Homo sapiens: one gene and its partners. The protein of the gene in region 2 purifies or fractionates together with the protein of the main gene of each other region. This does not show direct contact. Each region holds a gene or a part of one and is shown on either strand. Other genes may lie near its edges.

The links. The genes of interacting proteins can lie anywhere in the genome.
Region 1: the proteins of SEC22C (region 2) and ACADS purify together in Homo sapiens (affinity purification with mass spectrometry; 3 studies listed by BioGRID and IntAct, with this or other methods). This does not show direct contact.
Region 3: the proteins of SEC22C (region 2) and HK3 purify together in Homo sapiens (affinity purification with mass spectrometry; 2 studies listed by BioGRID and IntAct, with this or other methods). This does not show direct contact.
Region 4: the proteins of SEC22C (region 2) and IL1RN purify together in Homo sapiens (affinity purification with mass spectrometry; 3 studies listed by BioGRID and IntAct, with this or other methods). This does not show direct contact.

The regions. Positions count from the first base shown.
Region 1 is NC_000012.12:120,724,453-120,728,625, reverse strand, and holds the start of ACADS (short-chain specific acyl-CoA dehydrogenase, mitochondrial isoform 1 precursor), read right to left. Parts: upstream 2,801-4,173; 5' UTR 2,741-2,800; coding exon 2,695-2,740; intron 1,601-2,694; coding exon 1,437-1,600; intron 1-1,436. UniProt on the Homo sapiens protein: Short-chain specific acyl-CoA dehydrogenase is one of the acyl-CoA dehydrogenases that catalyze the first step of mitochondrial fatty acid beta-oxidation, an aerobic process breaking down fatty acids into acetyl-CoA and allowing the production of energy from fats.
Region 2 is NC_000003.12:42,579,168-42,583,396, forward strand, and holds the start of SEC22C (vesicle-trafficking protein SEC22c), read right to left. Parts: upstream 2,801-4,229; 5' UTR 2,679-2,800; exon of another isoform or gene 2,673-2,678; intron 1,312-2,672; exon of another isoform or gene 1,276-1,311; intron 1-1,275. UniProt on the Homo sapiens protein: May be involved in vesicle transport between the ER and the Golgi complex.
Region 3 is NC_000005.10:176,882,347-176,885,846, reverse strand, and holds part of HK3 (hexokinase-3), read left to right. Parts: coding exon of another isoform or gene 1-21; exon of another isoform or gene 22-36; intron 37-1,029; exon of another isoform or gene 1,030-1,103; intron 1,104-1,712; coding exon 1,713-1,808; intron 1,809-1,977; coding exon 1,978-2,077; intron 2,078-3,500. UniProt on the Homo sapiens protein: Catalyzes the phosphorylation of hexose, such as D-glucose and D-fructose, to hexose 6-phosphate (D-glucose 6-phosphate and D-fructose 6-phosphate, respectively).
Region 4 is NC_000002.12:113,130,598-113,134,514, forward strand, and holds the end of IL1RN (interleukin-1 receptor antagonist protein isoform 1 precursor), read left to right. Parts: intron 1-447; coding exon 448-560; intron 561-2,058; coding exon 2,059-2,274; 3' UTR 2,275-3,417; downstream 3,418-3,917. UniProt on the Homo sapiens protein: Anti-inflammatory antagonist of interleukin-1 family of proinflammatory cytokines such as interleukin-1beta/IL1B and interleukin-1alpha/IL1A.

The DNA of each region.
Region 1 (4,173 bases), on a different chromosome or scaffold from region 2:
CTGAGGCAGGAAACAATTGTTTGAACTCAGAAGGCGGAGGTTGCAGTGAGCCGAGATCGCGCCACTGCACTCCAACCTGGTGACAGAGCAAGACTGTCTCAAAAAATTTTTAAAAATAAAAAATAAATTAAAATTAAAATTAAAAAAAAAAACAGGCAAGGAGAAGAGGCCGGAGAGGTTTGACTTTTCACAAATCATTAATTAAACAACTATCTACTACTGAGTGTTTACACCAGGTGCTGGACATCTTTAGGTCAGCGTGTACGGCAGTAACATCTTCAACGCGTAGCTGCAGACAGACTGAATGCAAATGGAAGAACACAGTGGCACGGGAGGGAGCGCGCTGATGGGAAACTCAGGGGAGAAAACAGTTCAAGCAGGCCGGGCACGGTGGCTCACGCCTGTAATCCCAGCACTTTGGGACGCCAAGGCGGGCAGATCGCCTAAGGTCAGGAGTTTGAGACCAGCCTGCCCAACATGGAGAAACCCCATCTCTACTGAAAGTACAAAAACTAGCTGGGCGTGGTGGTGCCCGCCTGTAATCCCAGCTACTGGGGGCCGAGGCAGGAGAATTGCTTGAACCCAGGAGGCAGAGGGGTGCAGTGCGTTGAGATTGCGCCACTGCCCTCCAGCCTGGGCAACAGAGCGAGAGTCCATTTCAAAAAAAAATAAGTAAATAAAAAAGAAAATAGGTCGAGCAGGCTGCCGCTGATGAGCTCCATGACCTTGGGTATGTTATTTAACTTGTTCACAAGTCTGAGTCCATGGGGTATATAATAATACTACCTTTGGCCGGGCGTGGTGTCTCACACCTGTAATCCCAGCACTTTGGGAGGCCGAGGTGGGCAGATCACCTGAATTCAGGAGTTTGAGACCAGCCTGGCCAACATGGTGAAACGCCGTCTTTACTAAAAATACAAAAGTAGCGGGGCAGAGCAGTGCACGCCTATAATCCCAGCTACTTGGGAGGCTGAGGCAGGAGAATCACTTGAACTCAGGAGGCAGAGGCTGCAGTGAGGCGAGGTCGCACCATTGCACTCCAGCCTGAGCCACAAGAGTGAAACTCCGTCTCAAAAAAATAAATAAGAATAGTACCTTCACCTCACAGGACCGTTGTGAGGAACAGATGAGATAACCCATCTCAAGAACAGTGCCTAGTGCATGCCAAACACCCTAAAGGCACTATTTAGAATGAGCACAGTGGCTGGCACAGTAAGCAACTGACCATCCACCACATATTACTGTTGTCCCAGAAGTTAAGTCCTGGCTACTGGCCACAGGCTGGACAAGGGAAACTTCCAGAGCATTTTCTGGGTTCCAGGCCCTGCTTTGGGGTTCCTCTACCAGAGTCCGAGTGCCGCTGACTGTCACTGCCACCATTCATCCAGTAGCAGAGGGCAGACCACTATCGTGGGCTGCTGAGGTTGCACTCTCACCTGAGCCGCTGGGAAGAGATGTTCCTTATCCACCTGGGCTGCAATGGGAAACAACTCCTTCTCGGCAAAGTCCCGGCATGTCTGGAGCAACATCTGGTGTGTCTCGGGCAGTTCCACAGACTGGTAGATGGTGTGTAACTGCCGCCAGGCCCTAGGACAGAGAGCTGCCGGCAAGGGCAGAAGTGAGTGGAAGGAGGAGGCAGGAGGTCTCCAAGAATCCTAGTGACCCACTAACTCACCAGGGAGGATTTTGCCCTCCAAGGGACATCTGGCAATGTCTGGAGCCAGTTCTAGTTGTCACAACTAGAGCAGGGGAATACTATTGGTACCCAGTGGATAGGGGTCCGGGATCCCTGCTGAACATCCAACAAGGCAGAGGACAGCCCCCACAACAAAGAACTGTCAGCCCAAAATGTCCATGGCGGCCACTGAAAACCCCATACTAACTGAATGCTTAGTACACTCACTAGACATTTCCATACACTACATCCTTCAGTCCTCAGTATAATACCAACAGTAATAAGACCTCAGCTCTGTGACCTTAGGCAAGGGTTTTAAACGTCAGTGAGCCTCCGTTTCTATAACAAGTGGAGGCGAATAGTATTCCGCTCCTCGGAGTGCGAAAGAAAGACTAACTAGCGCTTAACACAGTTCTCAGTAGCGTTCCCCTTGTAATTCAGGCCAGGCAAAGGAAGCCGTGGCTATATGTGTCACGGCTGCTACAACTGGAGACACGTAAGATGGGAAAGGTACTGTATTAACCAGCAAGAACGAGCATTTGTGGAACACCTGTTACACGCCAGGCACGAAGTGCTTTACATACCCTATGATTTAATCCTCCCAACAACTCTGATTTTCTCTGTGGACATTTTACACATGGGCCAACCGAGGCTGAGGAGGGGCTGTCTTGCCCAAGGTCACAGATGCGGGTCTGGTTCAATCCCAGGCCTGGCTCCGGAAGAAGGACGCACCCTGAACCTCTAGTGGGGGTGAAATGAAGGGAGGGAGATATGGGAACTGGGAACTGGGCTGGTGGCTGGGGTCAATCGGGGGGTAGGGGTCTGTGCAGGAACCAGGGACGCCTGAAGGGCCGGGCTGGGTCGGCGCAAGGAGCAGCAGAACTGGGGCAAAGGCCGTGAGCGCTCCCGGAGTGGGGCTCCGCCTGCCAGCGGCTCTGACAGAGCCGGCCGCCAGGACCTCCGCCCGCTGGGCCAGACGCGGGCTGAAGCCCCGCCGTACGGATCCCCAGCGCACTCACCTCTGCGGGCAGGGCCCGAGGCCCGGGCGAGCAGCGCGGCGGCCATGGGCGACAGACACAGTCCCAGGCTTCGCGACCTCCCGCTGCGAGCGCGCTGTTCCGGAGTGCTGGGGGGCGGGACCCGGGACAGAGGCCACGCCCGTAGGGCCTCGGGAGCGGGGCCGAGGTGCGCTCGCGGCCAGGGGGCGGGGCCTCCAGTGGTCCCTCCCAAGGCGAGGAACCGACGCTCGACTGCGCGCGCGGTCGGTCAGCTGGCTGTTCGTGCCCACATTCGTTAATCAAAATGCTAACAAGAGAAAGCTAAGGATAGAGCTTCGCAGAAAGGCCAGAGAGGTCTTTTTAAAGCATAAATAAGATAGCGATCTTCGGGTTAAAACTTTGTTGGCTTTGTCGGCGGGCCCATCCCTCCTAAAATCCAATTCTATGGCTTAAAAAGCCAAGACCTGCCTTGTCTATCAGGGCCCATGCCCACCGTTCCCTGGTTATTGTTGCTTAGCTTTACGAGGCAGCTCTTCTCTAAGACCCTTAGCTGGTTCCTGACTCGGGGCCTCTGTGATCACTGTTCCTTTTGTCTGGAATGCCCCCTCTTCGTTTAGGTCTCATGGATGCCTGCCCTGACCACACCAAGCCGTTTCTCCCCCTCTGGCTCTCTATCTTTCGTTCTGTTTATTCAAGGCACTTTGCATCTGAAATTATCTGCTTCCCCGACTCGCTCCGAGAAGCTCAAGGACCTGTCTTGTGTTGGTGCTCAATATTTAGGCCCCTGGAGTTGGGCTGCAAGGAAAGCTTTCTTTTCCCCAGAGGCTGTGAAGGTGGGTGGAGATGCTACCCCCGTTCCACTTCAGTACTGTGTCTCATTCCCGATTGGGGCAGAACCCAGACACATATTTGACCCCTAGCATCCTCATCAGGACACCTTTGCCCCGCCCAAGAAACTATGCTGATTTTACTTGTCCCATAAGGGTCTTCTCTTGTGCAAGTGTGATTCTGATTCCCATAGCCTCCTGGGCACCACCCACGCCCTCCCAGGCACCCACACATCCCTCCAACTGCCTTTCTTTCCCAGCACTCAGCCAGGCAGGCATCTGTTCCCAGCATTGACCTATTTGCCAAAACTTCTGTCTCTTCCTCTTGGAGGAAAGTGGAAACCTCGGTCACTACTTCCTAGAAGAAAGCCAATCAAAAGATGCAGCAAAGTCCTTAATGTGTTACCTTTCTTTTTAAATAATGCATTTAAAAGAACGCCTCTAAATTCTCAGTACTTTAAAGTCAAATGAATGGCTCCCATTGGCAAATGCTCTAAGGGCTTCCTCACCTTTCCGTCATCCCACCTGGGAACCAGCCCTGGGTGGAAGAAACGATGAAGAAGCAGGAGAAAAGGGAGAAATAAGTGAGTTGTGTTTGTGAGCAAAGGCCAATAATTGCTTCAGGTGCCACAGAGCATCTAAACCAGACTCTTGAGAATTTGTGACTGTAAAT
Region 2 (4,229 bases):
TCAGAAGGCTGAGGCAGGAGAGTCACTTGAACCCAGGAGGCAGAGGTTGCAGTCAGCTGAGATTGTGCCATCACACTCCAGCCTGGGCAACAAGAGCAAAACTCCATCTCAAAACAAAACAAAACAAAACAAAACAAAAAACTAGGAAAGCAGGCTGAGCATGGTGGCTCATACCTGTCATCCCAGCATTTTGGGAGGCTGAGGCGGGAGGACTGCTTGAGTCCAAGAATTTGAGACCAGCCTGGGCAACACAATGACACCCCATCTCTACAAAAAAAAAAAAAAAAAGCCAGGCATGGTGGCACACACCTGTGGTCCCAGCTACTTGGGAGTCTGAAGTGGGAGGATCACTTGAGCTCAGGAGGTCAAGGCTGCGTGAGCTGCGACTGCATCACCGCACTCCAGCCTGGGCAACAAAGTGAGACCCTGTCTCAAAAAACAAAAAAAAAAAAAAGAAAAGAAAAAAGAAAAGAAAAGAAAATCAATTCCACAAGGACAAAGGCAGCTTCAGAATGTTCATACAAGAGACACTGGAATGTCTTCCAGATCTTACCAGATCCTTCCACAAGGCAGTGGATGTCATAACCTACCACCTTGCCTGGTACATATTAGGAAGCACTCAGTAAACACTGCTAAGTTAAATGAATGAATGACCTAAGGGCTGCCTTATTTTTGCTCACTGAAACAAGAAATGCAGGTTTACAGATCCCTTGCCATAGTTCTGATCTACAGTTTGAACACTTTTCCACAATAAATCTGTATTTGGAGAGAAAAAGAGAAAGGTTTATACAGATGAAATTTGTCTAAAAGTAGAGTGAAGTAGTAATCAAATACACAGCATCCGTGTTACTAGGTTTTATAAAAACATATTTTAATTTGCCTCCCTTATTTCCTAAATCTTCTTCCCAGCATCTGTTTATAAACTGCTCATGTCATAGATTATCTCTGTTCTATTAACAAAGACTTTATGCCTATGCTGCAGGCTACCCTTGATCCTGTTTTTTCTTCCACCTTTTACCCTTAACCCCTCCTCAAGCCCCTACCACATGCACTGAGAGAGAGAGAGGCTGAGAGAGACAGAAAGAAAGAGAAAAACAGAGAGAAAGAGAGAGATGACTGCACCTTGCAAAATAGGAATTTAGACAAAACAGGCTTCATTTGGCACACAAATATTCAAACACAAAGTGTTCACCATAAAGTATATACAGAATACAGAAGACTCAAATACACAATACAGAAGACAAAACTGAGTTGTGCCACCCTTACTGAATTCACCTTCAGCCACAGGACTTGAGAACTGGTTACCAAATCTGTAGATTCTATTAAGGCTCCAAGTTGCTTGGGGATGGAGTGAAGAGGAGGGTAGAGGTCAGTTTCGTCATTTGTTAGGAACTAAGAGGGGTAGGGAACTAAACTTGATAGGACCTTTTACACTGATAATGTTATTAAATGCTTGTAACTATAAGGTAGACATAATCTATACCGGATAGGTGGGAAAACTGCAGCTGTAAGGCTCAAGAGGTAAAGCTAGATTCAACCCAGACTTCCTTACTTCAAATATTCTAAAGCCTAGGATCTTTCCACCACATCCTTCTTCTACAAATCCAACTTTGGGAATTACAGCTACTCCCTTTCTCTAAAATAATTTCTTCTCCTTAGAGCACTAATAAGCTAATCAGAGACCTGTTGGTAGAGGAAGGAGCCTGAGATTACACTTGTTACAACTGCTCTTTATCCACTGTATTACCTTGAAGTCAGGTTGTCCTCTCTATGATCATGTTACTTTTTGAATTTAGTTGATTTCTAAGTTATTCTAAGAATAAAAAACACTGACTCCAAGATGGCTTCTGTTGCAAATGCAAACACTTAAATCAGAGCTATTAACATTGTCCAAAATGTACTTTCCAGAGGAAACACTATTTGTTTATTTAATTCTATCTGGCAACGTTAAACCATTTCCAGTTGCTTCCATTTTTCATTTTACTAAAATTATCTTTAGTGGGATCAACTCTTCTCTGCAAAATGTAATTAAATATTACCCTATATGTTGGTTCTGAGCTGTATTTTTTTCTGACCATGTCACAAATTTCACCAATTACTTTTCACACTGGCAATAGTCTTCCGTGGCTTTTATTTCTACAAACCTAATTTTTCCCCGAGTGCTTTATCCTTCTGGCTCTGGAGGTACATGTGTAAATCTGTAATGAACACAAAACCTGTAATGGAACGTCCTACACCTAGTGCTCTGAAAAGTTGGTTCAGTGTATCCAATATTTAAAGTCTAATAACACGGGCATGCTAAGGGAAGTTTGCTATTCAGATTAAACAATGCTCTGACGTGAGCTTCGTGAATGGTTAAAGAAACAATCGTCCCCTTTCTCACTCCCCATCTCTTCCAACTGGGAGAAGCCCTTGGCGCCCATCTGTCAGCCCAGGGTTCCTGCAGGCGCGTGCCTTGGGTGGCCCCGGGGTCCGGGAACAGGCTGACGGGAGAAAGGGGACAGAGGACTCCAAGAAGCCCAGTGAAGCCCCGTGGGGAGCCCCATGGTCAAGGCCGGGACTGAGGGCCGGGTGGGCCCTGGGCCGCCTCCACCTCTGGGCCCGCCCTGCGCCACACCCTAACCCGCCTGCTCTTGGCTAACGGGCCGCGGCACCCGCCTCCGCCCGCCAGCCCTCACCTCGCCCGGACGGCGGCCTTCGGAAGTCGGCGCCTGCCAGCTACCCGCCGCCTCCTCAGCAATCTTAGCCGACCGGGAGGGCTCGGCCCAGGTCACCGGCAGCCCAGGCGCAGGTAGGCCGTGGTGCGCGTGCGCGAGTCTTGAGCCACCCCACCTCCCCCCTACCCCGCATTCGCTGCTGCTAAGCGACACCCGCACCCAAACCGACCAATCCCGGCGCGCCTCCACAGCCCCCGTCCCGGCGAAGGCGCGAACGTAGTGGTTCTTAAAGGGCTGCGACCCAAACGGAGAGGGAGTGTGACGGGGGCGCGCGCCTCCCAACTTTCTTCCCACCTCCCGGCTCTCACCGCGGCGGTTTGAGATCCAAGCCTGTAATTCTCACGTCCGGAGGTGAGAAGGAGCCTTCGTGATCTAAGCTCGATTCCTGCCGGGGTAGCAACCGGACTGACGTCTGGAGGCGGGGAGGCTCCGCGTGACAGAGTGATAACGCCCGGGGCGTATGTTCTGCGGTCCGCGCGGCTGGGCGGGAGGCCCGAGATAGGCAAACCAAAGAGCACAACCTACTGCCAGCCTGGATGGGGCGCCAAAGTCCGACCCAGGGGGACACACCCCAAGCTGGGGACCGAGGCACCCACAGATGGATGACTGGCTGGAAGGAGATTAGGTAGGTAGCAGAGTCCGTCCATTTATTCATTTAGCAAGTATTGAGCACCTGCTATGTGCCAGGGGTTGTGGACAAAGCGAGGAATTCCTGACACGAAAAACTATGTTAAGAGAGGAGGCAGGGTGAGAGCACCCTTCAAACAATCAAACACCTGTATAAATACAAACTGCTCTTCAGGGAGGAGCAGGGGTTTTGGGAGAATTTACAGAAGCTTCTAGGCTGGTGTTGGGAATCACAGGAGGCTAACTAGGCAAAGGGGAGAGGAAGTGTGTTTCAGATGGAGAGATTAGCATGTATATAAGAACTCTGTGGAAGGCAGCAGAGCTCCTTTGAGGGATGAAAAGAAACCCAGAAAGGGGGAAATGGAAAGTTAGTGCTTAATAGGTACAGAATTTCAGCTGGAGAAGATGAAACAGTTCTGGAAATGGATAGTAGTGATGATCACACAACAATGTGAATGTACCAAATGCCACAGATCTGCACACTTAAAAATGGTTATGTACATTTTACCACAAAAAGAAAAGAAACTCAGAGTTTAGAGAATAAAGGAGTGGAGTGAGATCCACTAGAGCGAATAGAAGGGGCAGGACCATGTAGGATTTTATGGACCATAGTGGAAAGTTTAGGACCATAGAACACTGGTCAAAATTGCATTTTATAAAACTCACTTTGGCTGCTAAAGTGCAGATCAAAATGGAGAAGTCTCAACAGAGCTATGGTGGGACTGGCCTGGGAGCCAGTGCAGTCATCTGGGCAAGAGAGAATGGAGCTGGAGTGTGGACTAGGGTGAGAGTGAAGAAAAAGAGATCTAAGAAGGCTGCAGAGAAATGTAGGAGCAAAATCAATAGGACTTGGTGATGAGTTGGATGTGAAGGGGCGATGAAGCA
Region 3 (3,500 bases), on a different chromosome or scaffold from region 2:
CCTTTTGATTATTCCTTGTAAGATGTGAGAAGCAGGTGAGACTCCATGTGCAAATCGGGGGGCGGGGTGGGGGCAAGAAATATAGTCTTATTAATTTTCTGTAACTGAACTTAATTTCTGTGCTGAAGGCTGGGCGCGGTGGCTCACGCTTGTAATCCCAGCACTTTGAGAGTCTGAGACGGGTGAATCATGAGATCAGGATTTCAAGACCAGCCTGGCCAAGATGCTGAAACCCCATCTCTACTAAAAATACAAAAATTAGCCGGGCGTGGCAGTGTGTGCCTGTAATTCCAGCTACTCGGGAGGCTGAGGCAGGAGAATCACTTGAACCCGGGAGGCAGAGGTTGCAGTGAGCTGAGATTGTGCCATTGCACTCCAGCCTGGGCAACAGAGCAAGACTCCATCTTAAAAAAAAAATGTTGGGCCCACATTATTTTCAGGGGTGAAAACTTAACCAGTGTGGGGATTGCCTTCCCCAGGAGCCCCTTTGGCTCTGCAGCAGCCTTTGCTGTGCAGAATTTGCAGGGATGTGGGAACTCAGGGAGGTGCCCCGGGCCCTGCTCTTTGGGCACTTGCCTCTGCCACTTCCTCTCTTGAGTCTCGACACCTTCCTGTGCATTATCTGGGGAAGGAGGGCAGAGGCCTCCTCTGTTCTCAGATTTCTCAGATCCCTTCTGAACAGGGGTTCAGCCCAGTGGGGAGGGCATAGGACACCTGTCTCAGGAAGTCATCAGCAACCTGGGTCTGACTTCCCCCTTTGCCTCCCCTTCCCCACTCTAGGGAGAGCAGCCCACACAGGGCTCTTACTCATCATCTGGTCTCTCTCAAACGGGTTCTTTCTCTCACTCTATCACATTCTCTGCTTTCTGTTTTTGAGACAATGAGCCTAGGACAATAAAAAACGGGATAAAAGGACATATTATTGGAGGAAAACGTTGCTTACTATTTCTAAAATCTTCTGCCCCAAAGATTTCCTGACCTACCCTCCATGCTCCTCCTCTGAGCAAAGCAGTAATTTTCTCCCAACAGCTGTAGACTAATTCCTGCTCCCCCTGCCCCCTCCCTCAGAGGACGCACACTAAGAAAACAGCATTCCTTTCCAGGTAAAGTTGAGCCCCGTGTCACTAAGTTTAAGTCCCTTTTCTCACAATCTGGGCACTCAGCCTTCATCCTGCCCAGGGGCCTGGGTTCTGGCTTTTCCATTCCTCCTGCCCCTGCATTTGGAACACATGAGTGACTCGCCCATTGACACGGCTCTATCCCTGAAGCTGAGAATTCCTTCCTCTAGAGTAACTTGGAGTTCTTTCTGAAAGGGTGGGATCTGCTGTCATCTGGGCCTCTGAGCCTTCTCTGTCCTCCCCTGTCTCACACACAGCACTCACTTTACCAGCTCTGTTAATTCCTAACCCAATTACAAAGGGCCATTCCTTCCGGGCACACGTCTTAAAATGGCCAGACCCTCTGACTGTCTGGAACTAATAATGGAAAATGTAGGTTAGATGGTTATTAATAGGTTTTTGCACACCGAAAGCCTCCTGGGGAGTAGGGAGCGGGCAGAGGGCAAGGCCTTCAACCATACAGCAAAGTAGGCAAGGAATTGTGCTTGGGGAGGGTGGAAAGCCTAGGCTTGTGATGGATGCAGGTTTTGCAGAGGCAGAGTGAGCCTGAAGGGGCCTCCAGCTTCCTGCCACTTCCTCTCGGTCTCACCCCAGGGCATCCTCCTGAACTGGACCAAGGGTTTCAAGGCATCAGACTGCGAGGGCCAAGATGTCGTGAGTCTGTTGCGGGAAGCCATCACTCGCAGACAGGTAGGAGCCTGTTCTAGGGGTGCTTTGGGGCTGTGGCAGGCCTTGAGGGGAGCAAAGAGTCTCCTACTTTCTGAGGGGGGAGCCCTCTGCGGTAGAGACCTCTGGGTCCAGTGCTGGTTGCTGTGACGACCGCGTTGCCCAGCAACTAGCAGCATCCTTTTGTGTGCAGGCAGTGGAGCTGAATGTGGTTGCCATTGTCAATGACACGGTGGGGACCATGATGTCCTGTGGCTATGAGGACCCCCGTTGCGAGATAGGCCTCATTGTCGGTGAGGAGGGCCCTGCCCTTTCATGCCCCTACTGCTTGGCAATTTGCTGCCTTCTGTTGATTCCTCTGGTTGGATGTTTCCTTGGCGGTGGGGATGTGGGATTGCTCTGGTCTGACCCAGTAGGGCTCTGGAACAATCTCTTGGGCTGGCAGTTTGGAGCTTGGGTGTATAGTCCAGCTCAGTGACTGACTCATGGTCATTTAAGCTCTCTGAACTTCACTTTGCCCATCTGATAAATGAATCTGAGCTTTGGAGTTGTACAGATTTGGGTGGAAATACTAGCTTTGTGTTTCCACCTGTATGACCTTGGGCAAGTCACCAGAGCCTCAGTTTCCTCATCTCTAAGATGGAGATAAGAGTAACAATGCCTGTCTCAAGGCATCATGAGGATGAAATGGGAGGGGACAAAATACAGCATGGTCCCTGGCTCATGGTACACACCTGGTGTTTGGAGCTGGGCGGGGGCAGGGGACCAATGAGCAATGAGGGTCCTTCAGACAGTCCAAGATTCCATCCTTATTAAGCACCTACCCTGTGTCCACAGGGGACTGGACAGAGGAATAGGAAGACACATAAAACAAGAGGCAATTTCTGCCTTCTCAGAACCGACCACTCAGCAAGGGTTAAGCCCAGAACAACACGTAGCGGTCAGAGAGTGACTTGATTCTACACGTGGGCAGCAGCGAGGCCAAGATCAGGAAGGAGTGGGTCCCAGGATGAGTGGAACTTGAAAGCCCTGAAAGAAAGGATTTGGCTCTGTTGGGGAGGAGGGATCCCACAGCTCCTGGGGCATTGGTCTCTCAACACGAGGCATGTGGCAGCCTCTCTTGAGGGGGAGGTTTTTGAACCCAGCACCTGGCACGGTTAGGCACTTGGGAGAGGCATGCCCAGGTTGCTGTGTGCATAAACAGCTGGACAGAGGAGCTCCAGGTGGGGCCAGCAAGGAGCCCACCTTCCTGGAGCTGAAGCTGTGTCAGAGAAAGGAAGGAGACGCCCTCATCCAGGGTGCGTCCTCTGCCTGGAATGCCTTTTTCTTTCTGTGCTTCTTGGATTCAGTCACTTCCTCTCTGTTGCTTTCCTGATCCTGTTGGCAGAGACTCGCCCCGTGGTCTGGGCTCCCACGATGCTCTCCTTGGTGCTTCCACGGGGGCACAGAGGCTCTGTCAGAGCTGGCTATTCATTGCCTGACCTCTGGCCAGACTGTGGGGCTCCTCGTCTCTGATTTCTCTGTGTCCCCTGCTCTTGGCCCAGCACCTCTTAGTTGGATTAAGGGCCTGGCAGGCCGGTCCAGGGAGCTTCGGCCTCTCAACCGCAGAGAGCTAGGGGCGAGGGCGGGGGATGTCACATGTCTCCCAGGGGAATGACAGGACAGCTGGGCATTGTAGGAGCACTTGGGGGTGGCATGGTGGATGCACTGATGGTG
Region 4 (3,917 bases), on a different chromosome or scaffold from region 2:
GTAACTGGGTAGTGTGCATCCTGGGGAAAGTGAGGGAAATATGGACATCACATGGAACAACATCCAGGAGACTCAGGCCTCTAGGAGTAACTGGGTAGTGTGCATCCTGGGGAAAGTGAGGGAAATATGGACATCACATGGAACAACATCCAGGAGACTCAGGCCTCTAGGAGTAACTGGGTAGTGTGCATCCTGGGGAAAGTGAGGGAAATATGGACATCACATGGAACAACATCCAGGAGACTCAGGCCTCTAGGAGTAACTGGGTAGTGTGCTTGGTTTAATCTTCTATTTACCTGCAGACCAGGAAGATGAGACCTCTCTGCCCTTCTGACCTCGGGATTTTAGTTTTGTGGGGACCAGGGGAGATAGAAAAATACCCGGGGTCTCTTCATTATTGCTGCTTCCTCTTCTATTAACCTGACCCTCCCCTCTGTTCTTCCCCAGAAAAGATAGATGTGGTACCCATTGAGCCTCATGCTCTGTTCTTGGGAATCCATGGAGGGAAGATGTGCCTGTCCTGTGTCAAGTCTGGTGATGAGACCAGACTCCAGCTGGAGGTAAAAACATGCTTTGGATCTCAAATCACCCCAAAACCCAGTGGCTTGAAACAACCAAAATTTTTTCTTATGATTCTGTGGGTTGACCAGGATTAGCTGGGTAGTTCTGTTCCATGTGGTGGAACATGCTGGGGTCACTTTGGAAGCTGCATTCAGCAGAGTGCCTGGCTTGCGCTGGGCATCCAAGGTGGTCCCTCATCCTCCAGGCTCTCTTTCCATGTGATCTCTCAGTGTTTAAGAGTTAGTTGGAGCTTCCTTACAGCATGGCGGCTGACTTCCAAAAGGGATTATTCCAAAAAGAGCCTCAACATGCAGGCGCTTATTATGACTTCTGCTTGCATCATCCTATTGGCCAAAGCCAGTCACGTGGCTAAGTCTAGCCCCCTGTGAGAGGAGACTGCATAAGAGTGTGAACACCAGGAGACACGGTCACTGGGGGCCACCACTGTAACCATCTACCACAGGACCTGAATCTCTGTGTGCTACTCCCTTGCTCAAGGGCCCCCCTACCCACGCAGACCTGCTGTCTTCTAGCAAAGCCCATCCTCAGGACCTTTCTCTTCCAATCCTTATTGACTCAAATTGATTAGTTGGTGCTCCACCCAGAGCCCTGTGCTCCTTTATCTCATGTAATGTTAATGGGTTTCCCAGCCCTGGGAAAACATGGCTTTGTCTCAGGGGCTTGCTGGATGCAAGCTTAACCTCAATGTGAGTGGCCATACTGTGGCACTGTCCCATCCCTCACCAGGGACACTGTTCTGGAGGGTGACTGCCTGTTCTGTGAGGAGTGGGGATGGCTAGGACATTGCATGGAACACACCACCACCCCATCTTCTCAGAGCTCAAACCCTGACAGAACACCAGCTCCACAGGCCTTGGCTTCTGCTGATGGTGCCGTGTATTTACCAGACTTAGTGGTCCAAGGCCAGAGTGGCCAGATTTCCCAAAGTCAAGGTGTGACAGTGGGACAGCCTCTTTGTGTCTTTGCTGTCCTAAGAAACCTGGGCCAGGCCAGGCGCAGTGGCTCACGCCTGTAATCCCAGCACTTTGAGAAGCCAAGGTGGGCAGATCACGAGGTCAGGAGTTTGAGACCAGCCTGGCCAACATGGTGAAACCCTGTCTCTATTAAAAATAGAAAACATTAGACAGGTGTGGTGGTGCATGCCTGTAATCCCAGCTACTCAGGAGGCTGAGGCAGGAGAATCGCTTGAACCCAGGAGGTGGAGGTTGCAGTGAGCCGAGATTGTGCCACTGCACTCCAGCCTAGGCGACAGAGCAAGACTCCGTCTCGGGAAAATTAATTAATAAATAAATAAACCTAGGTCCCAGAGTCCCACAGAATGGCAGACAGGAGCACCTGGGGGCTTTTAGGGTATGGCATTTCCCCTGTACTAACTCTGGGCTGTCCAGAGGGCCATTTCATGGCGTGGAGTGGAGAGGGAGGCAGCACAGGACTTCCTAGGCCTCAGCTCTCACCTGCCCATCTTTTGATTTCCAGGCAGTTAACATCACTGACCTGAGCGAGAACAGAAAGCAGGACAAGCGCTTCGCCTTCATCCGCTCAGACAGTGGCCCCACCACCAGTTTTGAGTCTGCCGCCTGCCCCGGTTGGTTCCTCTGCACAGCGATGGAAGCTGACCAGCCCGTCAGCCTCACCAATATGCCTGACGAAGGCGTCATGGTCACCAAATTCTACTTCCAGGAGGACGAGTAGTACTGCCCAGGCCTGCCTGTTCCCATTCTTGCATGGCAAGGACTGCAGGGACTGCCAGTCCCCCTGCCCCAGGGCTCCCGGCTATGGGGGCACTGAGGACCAGCCATTGAGGGGTGGACCCTCAGAAGGCGTCACAACAACCTGGTCACAGGACTCTGCCTCCTCTTCAACTGACCAGCCTCCATGCTGCCTCCAGAATGGTCTTTCTAATGTGTGAATCAGAGCACAGCAGCCCCTGCACAAAGCCCTTCCATGTCGCCTCTGCATTCAGGATCAAACCCCGACCACCTGCCCAACCTGCTCTCCTCTTGCCACTGCCTCTTCCTCCCTCATTCCACCTTCCCATGCCCTGGATCCATCAGGCCACTTGATGACCCCCAACCAAGTGGCTCCCACACCCTGTTTTACAAAAAAGAAAAGACCAGTCCATGAGGGAGGTTTTTAAGGGTTTGTGGAAAATGAAAATTAGGATTTCATGATTTTTTTTTTTCAGTCCCCGTGAAGGAGAGCCCTTCATTTGGAGATTATGTTCTTTCGGGGAGAGGCTGAGGACTTAAAATATTCCTGCATTTGTGAAATGATGGTGAAAGTAAGTGGTAGCTTTTCCCTTCTTTTTCTTCTTTTTTTGTGATGTCCCAACTTGTAAAAATTAAAAGTTATGGTACTATGTTAGCCCCATAATTTTTTTTTTCCTTTTAAAACACTTCCATAATCTGGACTCCTCTGTCCAGGCACTGCTGCCCAGCCTCCAAGCTCCATCTCCACTCCAGATTTTTTACAGCTGCCTGCAGTACTTTACCTCCTATCAGAAGTTTCTCAGCTCCCAAGGCTCTGAGCAAATGTGGCTCCTGGGGGTTCTTTCTTCCTCTGCTGAAGGAATAAATTGCTCCTTGACATTGTAGAGCTTCTGGCACTTGGAGACTTGTATGAAAGATGGCTGTGCCTCTGCCTGTCTCCCCCACCGGGCTGGGAGCTCTGCAGAGCAGGAAACATGACTCGTATATGTCTCAGGTCCCTGCAGGGCCAAGCACCTAGCCTCGCTCTTGGCAGGTACTCAGCGAATGAATGCTGTATATGTTGGGTGCAAAGTTCCCTACTTCCTGTGACTTCAGCTCTGTTTTACAATAAAATCTTGAAAATGCCTATATTGTTGACTATGTCCTTGGCCTTGACAGGCTTTGGGTATAGAGTGCTGAGGAAACTGAAAGACCAATGTGTCTTTCTTACCCCAGAGGCTGGCGCCTGGCCTCTTCTCTGAGAGTTCTTTTCTTCCTTCAGCCTCACTCTCCCTGGATAACATGAGAGCAAATCTCTCTGCAAAAAAGATATGGGGCAGCACTGTCCACAACAGCCTCTGCTGGAAACAACCCAAGCACCCATCACAGAATGAATTAGTACATCATGTATCTGCACACAACACAGTGCTCCTTGGCAAAGAAAATGAATGAATTACAGCCAGCTGCACCTCACAAGACAGATAATCTTACAAACATCATGTGGGTACAAGAATCACAAAAGCATGCATAGAGTGTGATTCCATTTCTACAAAGTTCAAAACGGGCAACATGGGGCTGTTGTGTGGAGGGCTGTGGAAACAGGTGGTGCAGAGAGAAGCAAGGCCATGCTCTGTCTGAAGGCCCAGT